Linked DNA regions of Homo sapiens: region 1 is linked to region 2. Evidence: fine-mapped expression QTL. Tissue or cell type: whole blood. Region 2 holds a variant in brackets; the other region holds the start of a gene. All regions are shown on one strand. Distances are from middle to middle.

Region 1 (8,102 bases), 54 kb before region 2:
ATGTTGGCCAGGATGGTCTCGATCTCCTGACCTCGTGATCCGCCCGCCTCGGCCTCCCAAAGTGCTGGGATTACAGGCGCGAGCCACCGCGCCCGGCCAGGATTTTAAAAAAAATACTGTATTAGGATTTTTATAAGGCTGTAGTAAATGCTATTGAAAAATGCTTACCTCTTATTTCAGCCTTCTCCTCTGTCTGTTCCTCAAACTGGCTTTTGGTTTGAGAGAAGGGGAGGAGCGACCCTGGGGTTGGAAAAGCCCAGGAGACAAGATGGAGATCCAGTCTGTTCATCTGTACATCCCTGGACCTGGGGCGGTCCTGGGGACAGTCCTTTTCTCAAGCCAGTCAGTGGACATTTGGGGGAGAGTCTAGGCACGGATATAGAGGACCCAATATTCCTTTTTTTTTGAGACAGAGTCTCGCTCTGTTGCCCAGGCTGGAGTGCAGTGGCGCGATCTCGGCTCACTGCAAGCTCCGCCTCCAGGGTTCACGCCATTCTCCTGCCTCAGCCTCCCGAGTAGCTGGGACTACAGGCGCCCGCCACCACACCCGGCTAATTTTTGTATTTTTAGTAGAGACGGGGTTTCACTGTGTTAGCCAGGAGGTCTCGATGTCCTGACCTTGTGATCCACCCGCCTCGGCCTCCCAAAGTGCTGGGATTACAGGCGTGAGCCACCGCTCTCGGCCCAAGATTCCTTAATCTAGTTGGTTTTCCGAAAGCGTGGCTATGAAGGAAGAACTCAGGAGTTCTAGCCATTCCCATTGTATTTTGTGTTTTTTTCAGTAGGTATCCCGACGCAACCCTCAGATTAAAACTTTAAGGGAAAATGAAGACCACACCCCTATTCCATAGAAATTAACTCTAATGACAACGTAGTGGCGTGGCGGGGGTATAGCTCAGTGGTAGAGCATTTGACTGCAGATCAAGAGGTCCCCGGTTCAAATCCGGGTGCCCCCTCTGTGCTCCGGAGTTACCTCGTTTTGTTGGTCTCCGGAGGTCCTCTAAAGAGTTCCCGCACAGATGGAATGGGAGGGAGTCTCGAGCCCTGCCACCCTTTTTGCTTTCGCAGGCGAGTGAGGATGGAGTCCTGGCCCCTGCCAGTGGCTCAGCCTGTGTGTGTACCCAGGGTAGAATGCAATGCGAGTGAGGGCGAGGAGCTCCGGGCTGACCCTTGGAACACGGTACGGGTGGCTCAACCTCGCAATGGCAGGGCGGAGGCGAGCGCACCCCCAGGTCAGCCTGGCTCTTTCTTGGCGGGAAGGAGGCTGAGTTTCTAAGGGCTGGGCTGGGGAAGACAGGTCGGGAGAAGCCGCGTGAGCATGTGGGAGGGAGAAAGAAGCTCCGAGACGTGGCAAGGGGTCTTCTGCAGGGCAGGAGAGTGGGACGCCCCCGAAGTGAAATATTTCGAGAGACTTCTCCTTCCACACCCCAGGAATATATTTTCTTATACTGCCAGTGGGGATCTTCAGCTCAGAGCTTCAGGGAACAACCCCTGCTTCCAAGTGAGTAATTCTTCTGGGAGTTGTATTTTTTCCATCTCTTGTAAACGTCTTACCCCACTTCCACTTCCCTTCGGGAACGCCACACAGCGCCTGCGCAGCAATACCACTAAACGACTACGTGCGGTCGGTTTGCCGGCAGAGGGGGTATAGCTCAGTGGTAGAGCATTTGACTGCAGATCAAGAGGTCCCCGGTTCAAATCCGGGTGCCCCCTCTTTGGCCTTTTCGAGATACTGTTTTTGTCCTGGGTGTCGATTTTTCCTAAGCTGTTTGCTTTTACTCCTACTGGCAGACGAGGAGCAGTGAGGGACTGAAAGGAACTGGGGATTCAACAGCAGTGGCTCTCAAAATGTGGTCCTGGGACCAGCAGCATTACCTGGGTACGCTCGGGCCTCATCCCAGACCTAATGAATTAGAAACTTGAGGGTGGAGTCCAGAAATCTGTGTTTTCATATACGCTCCCCATCGCTTGAGTCCAGGAGTTGGAAGCTGCAGTGAGCTATGATCGCAGCACTGCACTCCAGCCTAGGCAACGTGCGAGAACCTGTCTCAAAAAACAAACAAAATACACACACACACACACACACACACACACACACACACACACACACACCCTGCAGGTGATTACGATCTCAAGTTCTAGAGGCTTACGTTAAAATTTACACATTTGCTTCTACTATTTACAAGTTTATGTTTCAGCCTGAGCTCTTCTTGTAAGACAGACCACGAGGTACCCCAGATGGAGGAATGTGCAAAGACGCCGGGGCTGGAGCTGGAATCCGTCCCGAGACTTCTCACCTTGACCTCGAGGAAGGCAGGAGGTCGGAGACAGGGGGTGGGCAGGCTGGGGAAAGAGGAAACCCGCAGGACAAGAGGGTTGTGGCTCGTCACGTGGCCACTTGAGGGCAGCAAGTAGCTGCAGCTGGAGGTAGCTGCCTATCTGATTCTGTTTGAGAGTCCGCCAAGTTGGGATTTAAATTAGACATCAAGAAGAATTTACAGACCGGCCTTGCCTTGTTCCACGGTAAGGGGACATTGGGTTTAGGGCTGGAGGAGGTAGTCTCTGGGACTCTGGGCCCGGCGGAAGGAGGAACCGGCGTTCTAAGAGATTAGAGAGCCTTTAGTTGTTTCCTTTCTTAGGTGTTTTTTTTTCTTTTCTTTTCTTTTTTTTTTTTTTAACCTCAGTGCCACGGAATCCGTCTCTTCCAGCCCACAGTGTACCTTCTCCTGTCCCCGCCCATATCCCTCCTCCTGGAAAATTTCTCCAATGGCGCTCAGCGTTCGCACCCTTCCTCTCCGCGGTTTTCTAGTCCCTAGGCCCCAGCCCACTAGAAGCCAGGATGCCCCCTCACCCCGTCTCCCACTCTCCAGCGCCCCAGCTCCTTGCCGTCACAAGAACGAAGTAGGTCAGGGGAGGGAAGAGGCATCTTCGTGTCCTGACCTGATTCCTTGCCGTCTATTAAATATCCTACATTGCGGGTATTTTTATTCTGTCCTGGAAGAAAAAATAAAAAGATTATCTATCCCCAGAGCCTGTCAGAAGGTGGTGACAGGTGGGGTGAGCCATTTCCTCGTCTGGGGCTGGCTCTGAAGATTGATTGGGTCTGGCCCTGAGTAGGCCTGGAGGCCCCAGAGAGGCAGGAGGCCTGGGTTACCTACTCGTGGGGAGGGGTCCAGACTGTTGCAGAGTAAGGGGTAGCCAGGCCCCCTCCACCCTCACGTCTGCTAGGCTTGGGGGGCAAATCGGTGCTGGAAATGGGGGGTGGAGGGATAAGGTGGAGTCATGGAAGGGGGGTGGGATTCAGGCCCCTCTTGGGGAGAAAAGCTGGGGGTCTTTGCTGCAGGGGGAGATTTCTGGGGGTGGGGGCTGGAGGACAAAGCATCAGAGACGCACAGAATTCCGAAGAACAGCTCAGGAAGTCGCAGAGCTTGGAGGAGCTGGGGGCGGGGAACAGTCAGGGGCCCGTGACCCAGGGATGGGGCGCCTGTCCCTTCCAGGGGTCCAGTCCTCGGGCCTTCTCTCTGCAGCTTTCCCGGCGGAACGGAGGAGGGAAAGGGAGCCAGGAGCTCAGTGAGGAGCGCGGGGCGGCTGATGCTTCTAGGGGTTCTCTCAGCCCGAGGGGCTCCCGCCCTGTCCCCTACTCTGCACCCCTTGCCTTGGGAGCGGCTGCAGAGCTCTAGGGGAGCGCTCCGTTAGGGCTGAGGGCAGGCGCCGGGAGAGCCCCCAACGACGCCGCGCCCCCCGCCCCGCCCCCTGCCCCAGCTCCCCCCCACCCCCACCGACCCAGCGGCCCCCCCAGCTCCCCGCCTGCTCCCGGAGGCCGCAGCCTCCAGCTCCGCTCGCGCTCTCGCCGCTCCTGCCGGCTCGCCCGGCCCCGCGCTCCGCCGTCTCCTCGCCGCCCGCCCCTCCGCCAGCCCCGGGGACCGCGCGGCCGCAGCCTGAGCCAGGGCCCCCTCCCTCGTCAGGACCGGGGCAGCAAGCAGGCCGGGGGCAGGTCCGGGCACCCACCATGCGAGGCGAGCTCTGGCTCCTGGTGCTGGTGCTCAGGGAGGCTGCCCGGGCGCTGAGCCCCCAGCCCGGAGCAGGTAGGACTGGCGGGAGCCGGCCCGGGTGGGCCGGGGGCGGGGAGGGACGGGCAGTCAGGTGTGGGCATGGGCAGGTGTGGACGGCCTGGCGATGTCCGCGAGGGGGGCATTGTCCGCAGGAGGCCAGGAGAGCTGTGGGCTGTGGGCAGGTGGATAGGGACCCCACTTTCCCAAACACATAGGGTGTGTGAGTGACGGTGGAGACACCGATGCCCGGACCTCTCCTTCTCTCCTGGAAGGATACTGGAGGGACCTTAGGAGAGGGGGCTCTATGTGGCCATGGGCTCTGAAAGGGGACAGCGGGAGAGTCATCAGGACCCCTGATCACCCCAGGCAAGGCTGAATTCTGATGAGATGGGAGCCTGGGGAGGCCCCTGCCCCAGCCATGCCTTCTTTTCCTCTTCTCTGCCACACCCCCGACCCCAAAGCTGATCCAGGCTAGGGATAGGTGGGAGCAGCCAGGGGGATGGTGGGGACACAGCGTCTCTGCCTGGGAAGGCAGCAGCCATTCGGTCACCTTCCCTTGCCTATTTGGTGTCAGTAGAGAGGCAGTGGGCCCAGGAAGAAGCAACTTGCTGCTTCTGCACCCCCAGCCTCAAGAGTCCCCCTCCTCACACCTGCTCCCATTTGCCCTGGCAGCCTTTGGCTTTCAGCTACTCTGGCTCTAGATGGGGCACTGGGGTAGGGGGTGGAGGGAGGCGTCCCATTCTGCACACTCCTCTTCCCCCCTACCAGTTCTCCAAACTCATCTCTCCCACCTGGAAGTCCTTTCTGAGATCTACCTGGAATCCCTCATGGTATAATTTTCATAGTCTCTGTTCTCCCCTAAGCACCTAGACTTTCTCTGGGGTTGGGGAGATGGGTAATTTGCAGCCTGGCCCCTCAGCAGAGATGATTAAGAAGATAGATACCTGTGCATCATTGGCATGGGTGCCCCTCAGGTGGGGTGAGGGAGGCGCTGTTGAGGTGAGTGCTGTGGTTGACCTGCTGTGTCTCAGGAGTGTGCTGGCACCAGGCACAGTGTCAGTGGCAATGTTCTTGACTTTAATGGTCCCAGCATGTAGCTGAGACAGACCTGGGTCCCTATTGAGAAGAAGAGTATGTTGGGGGTGGGAGGGGAAGGAGGCTGACAGTGGGAAGTATGGGCAGAGGGCAGTGGAGCTGACGAACCGAGAAGCTGCTGGTGAGAACCACCAATTTTCAGGGAGACCACACAGAGGGTGGCCAGAGACGTGGCTTCTAGTCCCGCCATCTCACTTGCTGTGTGACTTTAGACAAGTTACTTTCTCTCTCTGGACCTATTTTTGCATTTATAAAGTGAGGCTGTTGGCAAAATCTTTGACTCTTGTGCGTGGAATAATGAAGGATCTTTTATAATTGCCTTTCCTTTTCATATTTGTTAGGGTCTTTATGGGTAACTGATACTTTAAAAAAATCAAGGTAAACAGGAGAGAGTTGGATATGTTATGAATAATTTCTGGGCTCCTTTGAATCCTCAACCTGGTGTGATCTTCTGAACTCTGGGTGTAACAGAGTTTATGAGGGGAGGATCTGAACCTTTGGCTGGATTGTGTGAACCACGGAGAGGGCTGGGGAAGGGGGAATTGGGAGGTAACAAGGATGGGCTGGGAGATAGTGGCCAGACCCGGGCCTGGCTGAGGGCGGCCCCTTCAGAGTAGGGTTGGGGTAGTAGACGGTTGAGGAGACCAGGAAGAGTGGGGCAGGCAGAGACTTGAATCACTTCTCTAAGTAGAGGCTATCCTGTCTTCTTGGCTTTGACAGAGATTGAGCCAGGAGAAATGCACTTTTTCTGCAGCAGGAGGGATAGAGGTTAGACTTAAGGAATCTGTAAGAAGCCAGAGGCGGCAGCTGTTGACTCCCAGTCCGGTGCCCTTTTCACAGGCCAGGTGGGATTTCACAGGCAGGAGGACCTATGAGGAGGAAGCGGGTGTCTGGGGAGGCCAGATGTAGGAGAAGGACGTTCTGGGGGAGAGTTGCTAAGGAGGGGCAGCCTGACCTGATTGATGGCGGAGTTGTTGTGACCAGTGGAAGGGCAGCTGGGAGCAGGACCTGAAGAGATGCTAGCATCCTTCCCCAAGGCTCTGGGTTTGTGGGGCTGGTGGGGGGCCTTGGGAAGTAGCTGAGATCTCCCCTCGCTCCTGATGGACAGGCTTGTTTGGTAGAGCCTTGAAACCTCATCTATCATTAGAACAGCAGCAGCAGAGAGATGAGTGGCCCAAAGACAGAGTCAGACAGCAGGGGAGACCAGGATGACAGACAGGAAAATGGCCTTGGGGTGCAGAGCAGGGGCCCAGGGAACTGACAGTCTGGTCAGATGGAACCAGAGGTGCATATGACAGATAAAGAAGAGGCAGCGAGAGTTGGCATCCTGGCCTGGGAGTCCTGCAGGAGGCCAGGCTCAATACCAACTACTGGTGACCCTGACAGCTTCCTCCTTTCTCTGAGGAAGGTTTCCCCGTCTATAAAATGGGGGCTTGCACCAGTCACGGTGGCTCATGCTTGTGATCCTAACACTTTGGGAGGCTGAGGTGGGAGGATAGCTTTAGACCAGGAGTTTGAGACCAGCCTGGGCAAAATAGTGAGACCCCATGTCTATAAATGATTTAGGCCAGGCAGGGTGGCTCATGCCTGTAATCCCAGCACTCTGGGAGGCCGAGGCCGGCGGATCACCTGAGGTCAGGAGTTTGAGACCAGCCTGGCTAACATGGTGAAACCCCGTCTCTACTAAATATACAAAAATTAGTATATTTAGTATTGTTATTAATATTATTAATATTAGTATATTAGTAAAAATTAGCCAGGCGTGGTGGTGCATGCCTGTAATCTCAGTTACTCAGGAAGCTGAGGCAGGAGAATAGCTTGAACCCGAGAGGCAGAGGTTATAGTGAGCTGAGATCGCACCACTGCACTCCAGCCTGGGCAACAGAGTAAGACTCTGTCAAAAAAAAAAATTAAAATTAAAATAAAAAATTAGCTGGGCATGGCGGTGTGCGCCTGTAGTCCCAGGTACTCGGAAGGCTGAGGCAGGAGGATCGTTTGAGCCCAGGAACTGGAGGCTGCAGTGAGCTATGATCATGCCACATAGTGAGGGCAGCATAACGAGGTCCCATCTTTTTTTAAAAAAAGGAGGGAAGGAGGTTGGACCAGATTGTCTCTAGGGCTCCAACAACCTGAGACTAAAATGCGAACTTATGGAGGTCAGGCAGCCCCTCCCTCATCCCACCATCTTCTCTAGCTCTCCCCAGATTCACCCCTTAACCCACTCCAGCTGCCGTCCCCTCCGATCGACAGATAACTAACTGGCTTCTTCTCATTCAGGTCTTAATCAGCTCAAGGGGACCCTCCTCAGAGAGCCCCACCTCATGGCTCTGTGTAGAGTAGCAACAACCCCAACCCTTTCCTCTGTCTGATTTTCTTCATAGCCCTTACCAAATGATTCATTTTGTATGTCTCCATGAAGAAAACTAGACTCTTCCTGGGTACAGGGCTTGTGTCCCCCCAGCACCCAGCACAGTGCCTGCGACTCAATAAAAGTGTATTGAATGAATGAGTGAGTGACTGAGTGAGTATATCAGAGGTGGCACAGATCCCAGACTCTCCCCTCAAGGGACACACATAGAGAGCTGAACTCTTCTTGCTGTCCCTCCCTTCCCCTCCCCTCCCCTTCCCTCCCTCCCTCTTCCCTTCTGCTACCTGGTGGTCCCTCCCTGCACTTCCTTTGACTCCTTCCCTCTCCCCAGGTGAGGGTCCTCAGTGGGTCCCTACCTGCCAGAGGAAAGGGAGAGGGTATGGTTAGGGGCTTTGTAACTTGGAGGCAGGATTTCAGTTTAGGGTTTGGAGCCTTCCCTGGCCCCTCTGAAAGCTGGTCCTGTGACCCTAACTGGTGTGTTGCCCAAGGTGCAGCAAGTTGACACACCAACACCGAGGGGGCAGCAGAGAAAGAGTTTCATCATCGTGGGGCAGCATTTGGGGCTAGAGGTTTTATGGGGTTTGGGG
Region 2 (8,102 bases):
CAAAATATTGAAATACTTGCATTCTTGTTGGCAAATTGCTGCTGATTTGAGCCCCCTCGTACCTCCCACGACCCCTCCTGCCCTCCCCTTAGCCCCCTGCGCTCCCAGTCCTCTATCAAGTATTACAGCCTGGGCTCCAGGACCTGGCTCCATGGCTGCAGGCAGCATCTGCTCTGACTGGTTGGTAAACGCCTGTGTTGAGCCAGTTGTTAAATCATCTCCGTATCACCTGGTTGCATTAGTTAGCTACAGCTGTATAACAAATTGCTCCAGAATTTAGTGGCTTAAAACTGCAACATATTATCTCAGAGTTTTTATGGATCAGGAAGCAAAGCACAATTCAGCCAGGACCTCTCATTCAAGGTCTTTCACAGGCTGCGACTGAAGTGTTAGCCAGCGGCCAGGCACGGTGGCTCACGCCCATAATCTCAGTTCTTTGGGAGGCCAAGGCAGGGGATCTCCTGAGGTCAGGAGTTTGAGACCAGCCTGGCCAATATGTCGAAACCCCATCCTTACTAAAAATACAAAAGTTAGCTGGGTGTGGTGATGGGTACCTATAATCCCAGCTACTTGGGAGGCTGAGGCAGGAGAATCGCTTGAACCCGAGGGGCGGAGCTTGCAGTGAGCTGAGATCGCACCACCTCACTCCTCACACCACTCACTCACGATTTCACTGGGTGAAAGAGTGAAACTCTGTCTCAAAAAAAAGAAAAAAAGTGTTAGCCAGGGTCACAGTTACCCCCGTGATGGGGTGGCAGGTGGGGAGGGTTGGGACCGGCTTCAGAGCTTTCATGTGGTTTGGCAGGATTCAGGATTCAGAATTCAGGATTCAGTTCCCCAAGGAGGCCTTCTTTGGCTCCTTGCCTGGTAAACTTCCCCATGATATGGCAGCTGGCTTCCATCAGAGCAGGCAAGCGAGACAAAAGCAGAGGGCGAGGAAGACGCAAACCAGGGTCTTTTTATAGCTTAATTTTAGATGTAACATCCTATCTTTTTTGCCACATTCCGCTGGCTAGAACCAAGTCACAGATCCAGTCTACGCTCAGGGACTGGATTGCACCTGGGTGTGGATACCAGGCAGCCACCGTAGAGGCTCTCTGGGGGCCATGCTAGCGTCTGCCTACCACACTGATTATAATCCTCTTTCCCATGCACTAAGCTGGACAGTGTCTTGGATCTTCCCCAAACATTGTGAGTTTGTACATTTGTCCCTTTCTAAATGAGGACACAAATGTTCAGAGAGGTAGAGTGACTTATCCTTGGTCACACAGCTATGAAAGGAAGAATTCAAGTCCAGATCTTCTCCATTTAAATCCTGGAGTCCACCACTGAGCCTTTCTTAGACTGACCCACTCCCATTCCACCCAGGGGAATCTTTTCCTCCTCAGCTCCCCCAAACACCCACAGAGTGGGGTGTGCAAACTCCCCAGGCTGCTTCTTGGGACTGTTCTTGGTGTCTGTGCCTTATTTCCTTCCCTATCCTGCATCCCATGTACATTACTGAGCCCACTGTCGGGGCAGGGATGTGTCTGTTTCATCTGCACCTCCCTCAAGGGCTTCTTCCAGGCAGAGTCTCAGGAAACGTGTGCCTGATCAAGCTGTGGAATGAGGGTGAATTAGAGGGGGTCAGATCCCCGGTAGCATCTGCCTCTGAGGCTCCTCTGTGATTCTGGAATGAGAAGCCCCTTTAGAGCAAACCAGAGAGATGAGGGGTGAAGGGGGCGGGGAAGCACAACCCACCTGAAAGAGCAGGGAGGCTATGTCTGCTCTGCAGGATCAGGAGGAAATCTCGGTGGTGGGAGCGGTTGGAGTCTGACTCCAGGTGCTGTGTGCTGAGGTGTTGGGTCTACCTGCCAGGTGAAAGCCAGCACCTGACCCCCAGACACTGCCAGCAGCTCCCAGCCTCGTCCTCCTTCCCTCTGTCTCCTGTTCCTCCTTGTCACCATCAGATCCGATCACATCACTCTCTGACTCCTTGCTGCCCACAGGTCAGGTCAAAATCCTCAGTGTGGCATTCAAGGCCGGGCACAGCTGGGTGCAGTCAACCACGCAGGCGCATTTCCAAACCCTCCCTCCGCTCACCGCCCTCTGCCTGGGGAGCTCTGGTCTGTGTCCCCTGGGTTCCCTGAACATGCTAAGGGCTGTCCACATCGGTATGACACAGTCCCCTTGTATAAAACGCCTCTTACTCCAATCTTTTTTACTGCTTGGCACCATTCTCCCTCTCCAGCGGCCCAGGTCAGATGCTGTGCAAGTAACCACTCCGCCATGCAGTGGAATTCACGGCTTCCTCTTCTTCCCCCCGGCACTTCGCTGATACTTTTTTCTTCTTCTTCTTTTCTTTCTAGTGGTGGCGAGAACAAATGCTGATACTCTTAACATAGAACTTATTGTCCTCCCCAGCTAGGTGTGAATTCCTTGGGGGCTCTCTATGGCCCCCAGCAGTGAGCCCAGTGGGCAGGCACTAACATTTTTAGAAAATGAGTAACTACAAGAAAGTGGACCTAGTTGCTGGGGTTAGGGCACCGCTGAAGGGAATGGACATAGCATAGACCTTGTCCTCTGCTCTATTGTGACTCTAGGTGAGAACAGGGGTCTGACACCACTTGAGTTTGGGAGTTGAGTGTTTTGGAAATTGCATCCCTTTTTGTCAGAGGTTTTTAGCTTACGGGAACAAGCATAAAATTCAGGAAGTCTGGGAATCTTAAAATTGTATACGGATTTTTTTTTTTTTTTTTTTTTTTTTTGAGATGGAGTTTCACTCTTGTTGCCCAGGCTGGAGTGCAATGGCGCAATCTCGGCTCACTGCAACCTCCACCTCCTGGGTTCAAGCAATTCTCCTGCCTCAGCCTCCGGAGTAGCTGTGATTATAGGTGCCCGCCACCACGCCTGACTAATTTTTGTATTTTTTAGCAGAGACGGGGTTTCACCATGTTGGCCAGGCTGGTCCTGAACTCTGACCTCAGGTGATCCGCCCACCTTGGCCTCCCAAAGTGCCGGGATTACAGGCGTGAGCCGTTGCACCTGGCCTTTTTTTTTTTTTTTTTTTTATAGACAGGGTCTTGCTCTGTCGCTCAGGCCGAAGTGCAGTAGCACAATCATAGCTCACTGCAACCTCAACTTTCTGGGCTTAAGCGATCCTCCTGCCTCAGCCTCCTGAGTAGCTGAGACTATAGATGTGTACCACCATGCCCAGCTTATTTATTTATTTATTTATTTATTTATTTATTTATTTATTATTTGTAAAGACAAATAATAAAATAGGGTGGTATTGAATTCTTACGCTCAAGCCATGCTCTGGCTTTGGCCTCCCAAAGCACTGGATTACAGATGTGAGCCACCGTGTAAGGCCTGTATGTGGAGTATTGAAATGCAAGTGGAACATGTTCACATCCATGCGTTTTTCTGGGACAGTATCCATGGCCCTCATTGGGGTTTAAAATGGGCCACAGCCTCTGCTCCTGGGGAGAAATGGCTTTTATGTGGCTAAGGGGTCAGATGACTTTGGGTCTCACATTCAATCCGGCAAGCAGGGAATTTGTTTGGATTAGGTTGAGCTGCAGGTAATAGTAAACCCCAAATGATCATGGCTTAAAGGAAACAGAAGTTCAGGAAGAGCCATCTGGTCTGCAGACCCTATGATCACCATGGATAATCCTATTGACCAAGCCCACCTGATCATACAGAATGGGTGGCGTCACTGTCCTTGTGCCCAGGTTTGACTGCTCCCTGCCTGGGGCAGTGTGAGGAGGGGAGTTTGATTCCTCACTATTTAGGAATCCCCAGCCACTGAACCCTGTCTGGGGAAAACTCTCCTCCCCCAGGTTCTAAACACTTTCCTCCCCACCCCTGCTAGGCAAGGGGATGGGAGGTGCAATGGGGAGGACTC[C/T]TCACAGCCTCACTCCTGGGGGAGAGGGTAGAAGAGGCTGAAAACCACAAGAGTTCTTACCAGTACTTCCTCGTATAAACTCTTCCGCAGGCTTTTCAGCAGAGTCTGCAAAGCATCTTTGGTGAAAAGAAAAGTCATGTGCAATTAGCAGCATCTGTTTGCAGAGGCACTCAAAACACACAGGACAGTGTATCCGCTATGTGGCTGGGGAGACCGCCGGAAGTCAATATTATTTCCTCTGTTCATTTGCTTAAGAAACTCTTTATTTCATGGTTAGTATAAAAGCAACTTTAGCATTGCCAACATCGAAACTGACAGGGATTCTGAATTAGTGGGATCAGTTAGTGAGGATTTTCTTACAAAGAGCTCCAGAATGTAGCCTGCCCCTTGGCTGGCCCCGAATGGCCTTGGACGGCCCCAACATGCTGGTCCTCCTCCTTTACCGGAACTTTCCTGTCCTTTCCGAGGCAGACTTGAGTCCAGATATATGTCAGGGCCTGAGCTGTGTGTACCTTCCTGCCAGGCTGCAGGTAAGGGAGGGGTGGGTCCCAGAGCAGGCTACAGAAGGGATCTAGGGGCAGCCACGTGAGGAAGTGGGTGCAGGGAGAAGCTGAGGATCTGGCCAATTTTGCCTTTTCTGATAAAGGATCCTTTAAAGTGCCCTTCGTTGGAAGTTTTTAATCCATCTGGGGGCCCATCCTTCCCTCTTTTCCCTTCTCACTTCTGTTTTTCCCACTACTCTGCTCCCTGAGTCATTTCTGGCCTCTTCTTTCTCTGCCTTTTTCTGCTTTGCTTCAATGCTGAGGGACCCCCCTACTTCTCCCCCGTGGGGCAGGGTCCCCTGCTGGGGCTCCACTCGTGATTATTGAATGAATAATCACATGAGCCAAGGAACAAAAGAATGCATGAAGACTTTTTCCCAACCCAACCTCTTAGATTTTTTTATACGGTAACCACCCATTCCAGGTGGGAGTTTGTGGATCGACCTGTCATCTCCTAACTTCTTCTGGCCAAGCCAGCACTCTCCCATGGGCATCTGGCATTGAAACACAAAGGGACATGCAAACCTCTCACTTGAACCATTAACATTACTTGTTTGGGGCCAGGCATGGTGGCTACGCCTGTAATCCCAGCACTTTGAGAGGCCGAGGCGGGTGGATCGTTTGAGGCCAGGAGTTTGAGACCAGCCTGGCCAAGATGGTGAAACCCCATCTGTACTAAAAATACAGAAATCAGCCAGGTGTGGTGGCAGGCACCTGTAATCCCAGCTCCTCGGGAGGCTGAGGCAGGAGAATTGCTTGAACCCGGGAGGTGGAGGCTGCAGTGAGCTGAGATTGTGCCACTGCACTCCAGCCTGGGCGACAGAGCAAGACCCTGTCTCAAAAACAAAAACAAAACAAAACAAAAACAACCCCCCCGCCAAAAAAAAAAGACAAAAAACAAAAACATTTCTTGTTTGGGCAGCAGTGTTTGCCAAGTCTGGACCTGAGTATTTCTGAATCTTTGATGCCTGGAAGCAGAGATAAAACAGAACACCTTAAACTGCCAGAAATGGTGCTCTGGGGAAGCCTGCGTCTTGGTTCCAGAAAGGATCTGTTGGTCATGGAGATGGAAGTCATTGTCTTGGGCAAGCTCCAGATGTTGGTGAAACAATCCAAAACAAATAACCCAGGCTTGGGGGGTTGGGGGGGGGGGGCGGGGCGTAAGGATTCTTTTATTAAAAAAATAAAAATATTACCAAACCCACACTCGAACAAGTACAAGCTGGCAGTTGAAGTGAGCAAATAGTTTCAATTAGAGATATAGTTCCACCCCCCACCCTCATCCCCCTTTCTGCCACCACTCAGCCTCCCCCACTCCGCTGGAAGGACTGTATTTTCAGAGGACAGCTGGCATCCCTGGCTGCACCCATGCTTGGGGCACATCCCCAACTCTGCCCCCCAGCCCGGATGGTGGGGAAACCCATCCCTAGAGCCTGGTGTGAAGTTTCTAGGAGACTTGGCTTCCCTGGCTGCCACTTGTGTCTCTATCCTCGAACTCAGTTCCCTTGAAAAGTCTGAGTCTCTATCTGTGCCCCACCCTGAGTCCCTTTGTCCCTCCCATTTCCCCTTCCTTCTGATGAGGGAAAGCTCTGCCCTGCAGCCTTGCAGGTGGAGAAATCCTGAAAGCCAGCTCTCCTCCCGCTTTGAGATCTAGCTTAGGAGGCGGCATGTCTGGTTTACTGTGGTCTTTCAGGGTTGTCCTTTTGAGAATGGCAGTAATTTGTGGTGGGCTGGGGAGGGAGGGCGTGCTTCCTTTGGGCTGTGGGCTGACGTTATAAGTTGCTGAGGTTTTCATGACTATTTGTAACCCATTCATTCACTCACAGTCATTTCTTAAGGTCCTGTTAAGTGCAAGGCCTGGTGCTAGGGGATGAGGTACAGAGATAAATTCCATGCAGACTCTGTCTTAGCGGAGCTTGTGGTCTGGCTGCGGGAGTGGCCAGGAGAGCAGATATTGACCAAGCGATGTAATGGGGGACACTGGACATTGCTCAGGGAGTTGTAGACTCAGAGTGGGGCCGGGTCGGGGGGCAGTCACTTTGCCTGAGAGTGGGGGAAGTCTTCAAGGAGGGGACGTCATTTGAGCTGAGTCTTGAAGTATGAGGCAGTTGAAGCAAGAAAGGTTGACATTGGACTCTAGAACCTATGGCCTCAGGCACCCTGGAAGTCAGGACATGGGAGACTTGGAGTTTCATGTTTATTTTTGATCCCATTGCGTTTTGGTGCTGAAGGGGAAGGAGAGATGGCCCCTGGGAGTAATGAGTGGGGATGGTGTGTGAAAGTCTGCTTCAAACTTTCCATCCTCATCTAGATATTCCCAGGCCCCCAGGCTTACTCAGAGCCCAGGCCACCTTCTCATGGCCATTGGCATCACTCAGGGGCACCTGCAGCACAGGTGGCCTTGGTGCCACCTCTGGGCATGTGAATTACAAAAAGGTGCCCATCCTCCAATCTCTGTCAGATCCCACTCGGGCTTGGCAAAGGGTCTTTCTTGTGTCAAAGGGTTGCATATGTGTGTGCATATGAGTATGTGCTCATGTGCAGGTGTGTGTGTGTCTTGGAGGGCTGGGGTGTGCACATGCGTGTGCGGGGCTCTGTGAACCCCTCGCCACCTCAGCTTTCCATGGAGGGTTCCCTCCTCTTAGAGCCACAGTGACTCTGTAGACACCCGGCAGTTACTGCCTGATATTTACGAGGCTTGCCACGGGGCCTCCTCTCTCAGACTTAGGGTTCTTTAGGAGACAAACACACAGTCATTCCATCTTTTGGATTTTGGCTTAATTTTATATATATATATATATATTTTAAGACGGAGTCTTTCTCTGTCGCCCAGGCCGGAGTGCAATAGTGCAATTTCGGCTCACTGCAGCCTCTGCCTCCCGGGTTCCAGCGATTCCCCTACCTCAGCCACCCGGGTAGCTGGGATTACAGGCGCGTGCCACCATGCCTGGCTAATTTTTGTATTTTTATAGAGATGAGGTTTCACCATGTTGGCCAGGCTGGTCTCAAACTCCTGACTTCAGGTGACCCGCCCACTTTGACCTCCCAAAGTGCTGGGATTACAGGCATGAGCCACTGTGCCCGTAATTTTTAAATAAATGTTTTTATTTTTAAATAAACAACTGGGCTCGGTAAATTGTAAAGAGATGTGGCCTGACGCAGTGGCTCGCGCCTGTAACCCCAGCACTTTGGGAATTGGAGGCGGGAGGATTGCTTGAGGCCAGGAGTTTGGGACCAGCCTGGGCAACATAGGGAGACCCTGTCTCTACCAAAGAATAAAAAAAAATTACCAGGGCATGAGCCTTTGGTGGGGGAGGTGGAGCTGGGGGCAGGGACTGAAGTGGGAGAATCACTTGAGCCCACGAAGCCAAGGCTGCAGTGAGCCGTGATTGCACCACGGCACTCCAGCCTGGCAACAGAGTGAGACCCTGTCTCGAACAAAACAAAACAAAACAAAAAAGAAAGAAATGTAAATGTTTCCCTTTGACTCTTTTAGAAACACAAATCAGGAAGCTCTCAGCAGGGGTGTGCTGGAGATCATGTATGCAGCTGGGTGAGAGGCAACTGAACATGTCTCTTCCTAACTCCATGTTCAGTAACTTTTTTGAAAGGGTAGCTGGAAGTCAGCTACCGTGGAAGTATTTACACCACAGAAATTGGCAACAACGGCA

Evidence for each region. PIP is the estimated chance that this variant, and not a neighbour inherited with it, causes the effect.
Region 1: it holds the start of PLXDC1, and the variant in region 2 is fine-mapped to the expression of PLXDC1 in whole blood (GTEx, PIP above 0.99).

The regions. Positions count from the first base shown.
Region 1 is chr17:39,147,345-39,155,446 of GRCh38, reverse strand. It overlaps PLXDC1 (plexin domain containing 1), which reads left to right and starts at 3,810. Exons shown (of 14, transcript NM_020405.5): 1 at 3,810-4,085. The coding sequence starts at 4,010. TRC-GCA2-3 (tRNA-Cys (anticodon GCA) 2-3) reads left to right here and starts at 1,642; the gene lies at 1,642-1,713. It overlaps TRC-GCA2-4 (tRNA-Cys (anticodon GCA) 2-4), which reads left to right and starts at 885; the gene lies at 885-956. RefSeq lists a silencer at 827-896 and enhancers at 773-1,277, 1,278-1,784, 2,157-2,306.
Region 2 is chr17:39,092,851-39,100,952 of GRCh38, reverse strand. The region is part of intron 7 of PLXDC1 (plexin domain containing 1); the gene reads left to right. Among named protein-coding and RNA genes, the nearest start is that of PLXDC1, 55 kb to the left of the region's middle. RefSeq lists enhancers at 1,405-2,006, 7,880-7,949. The variant C/T (reference allele first, on the strand shown) is at 3,890.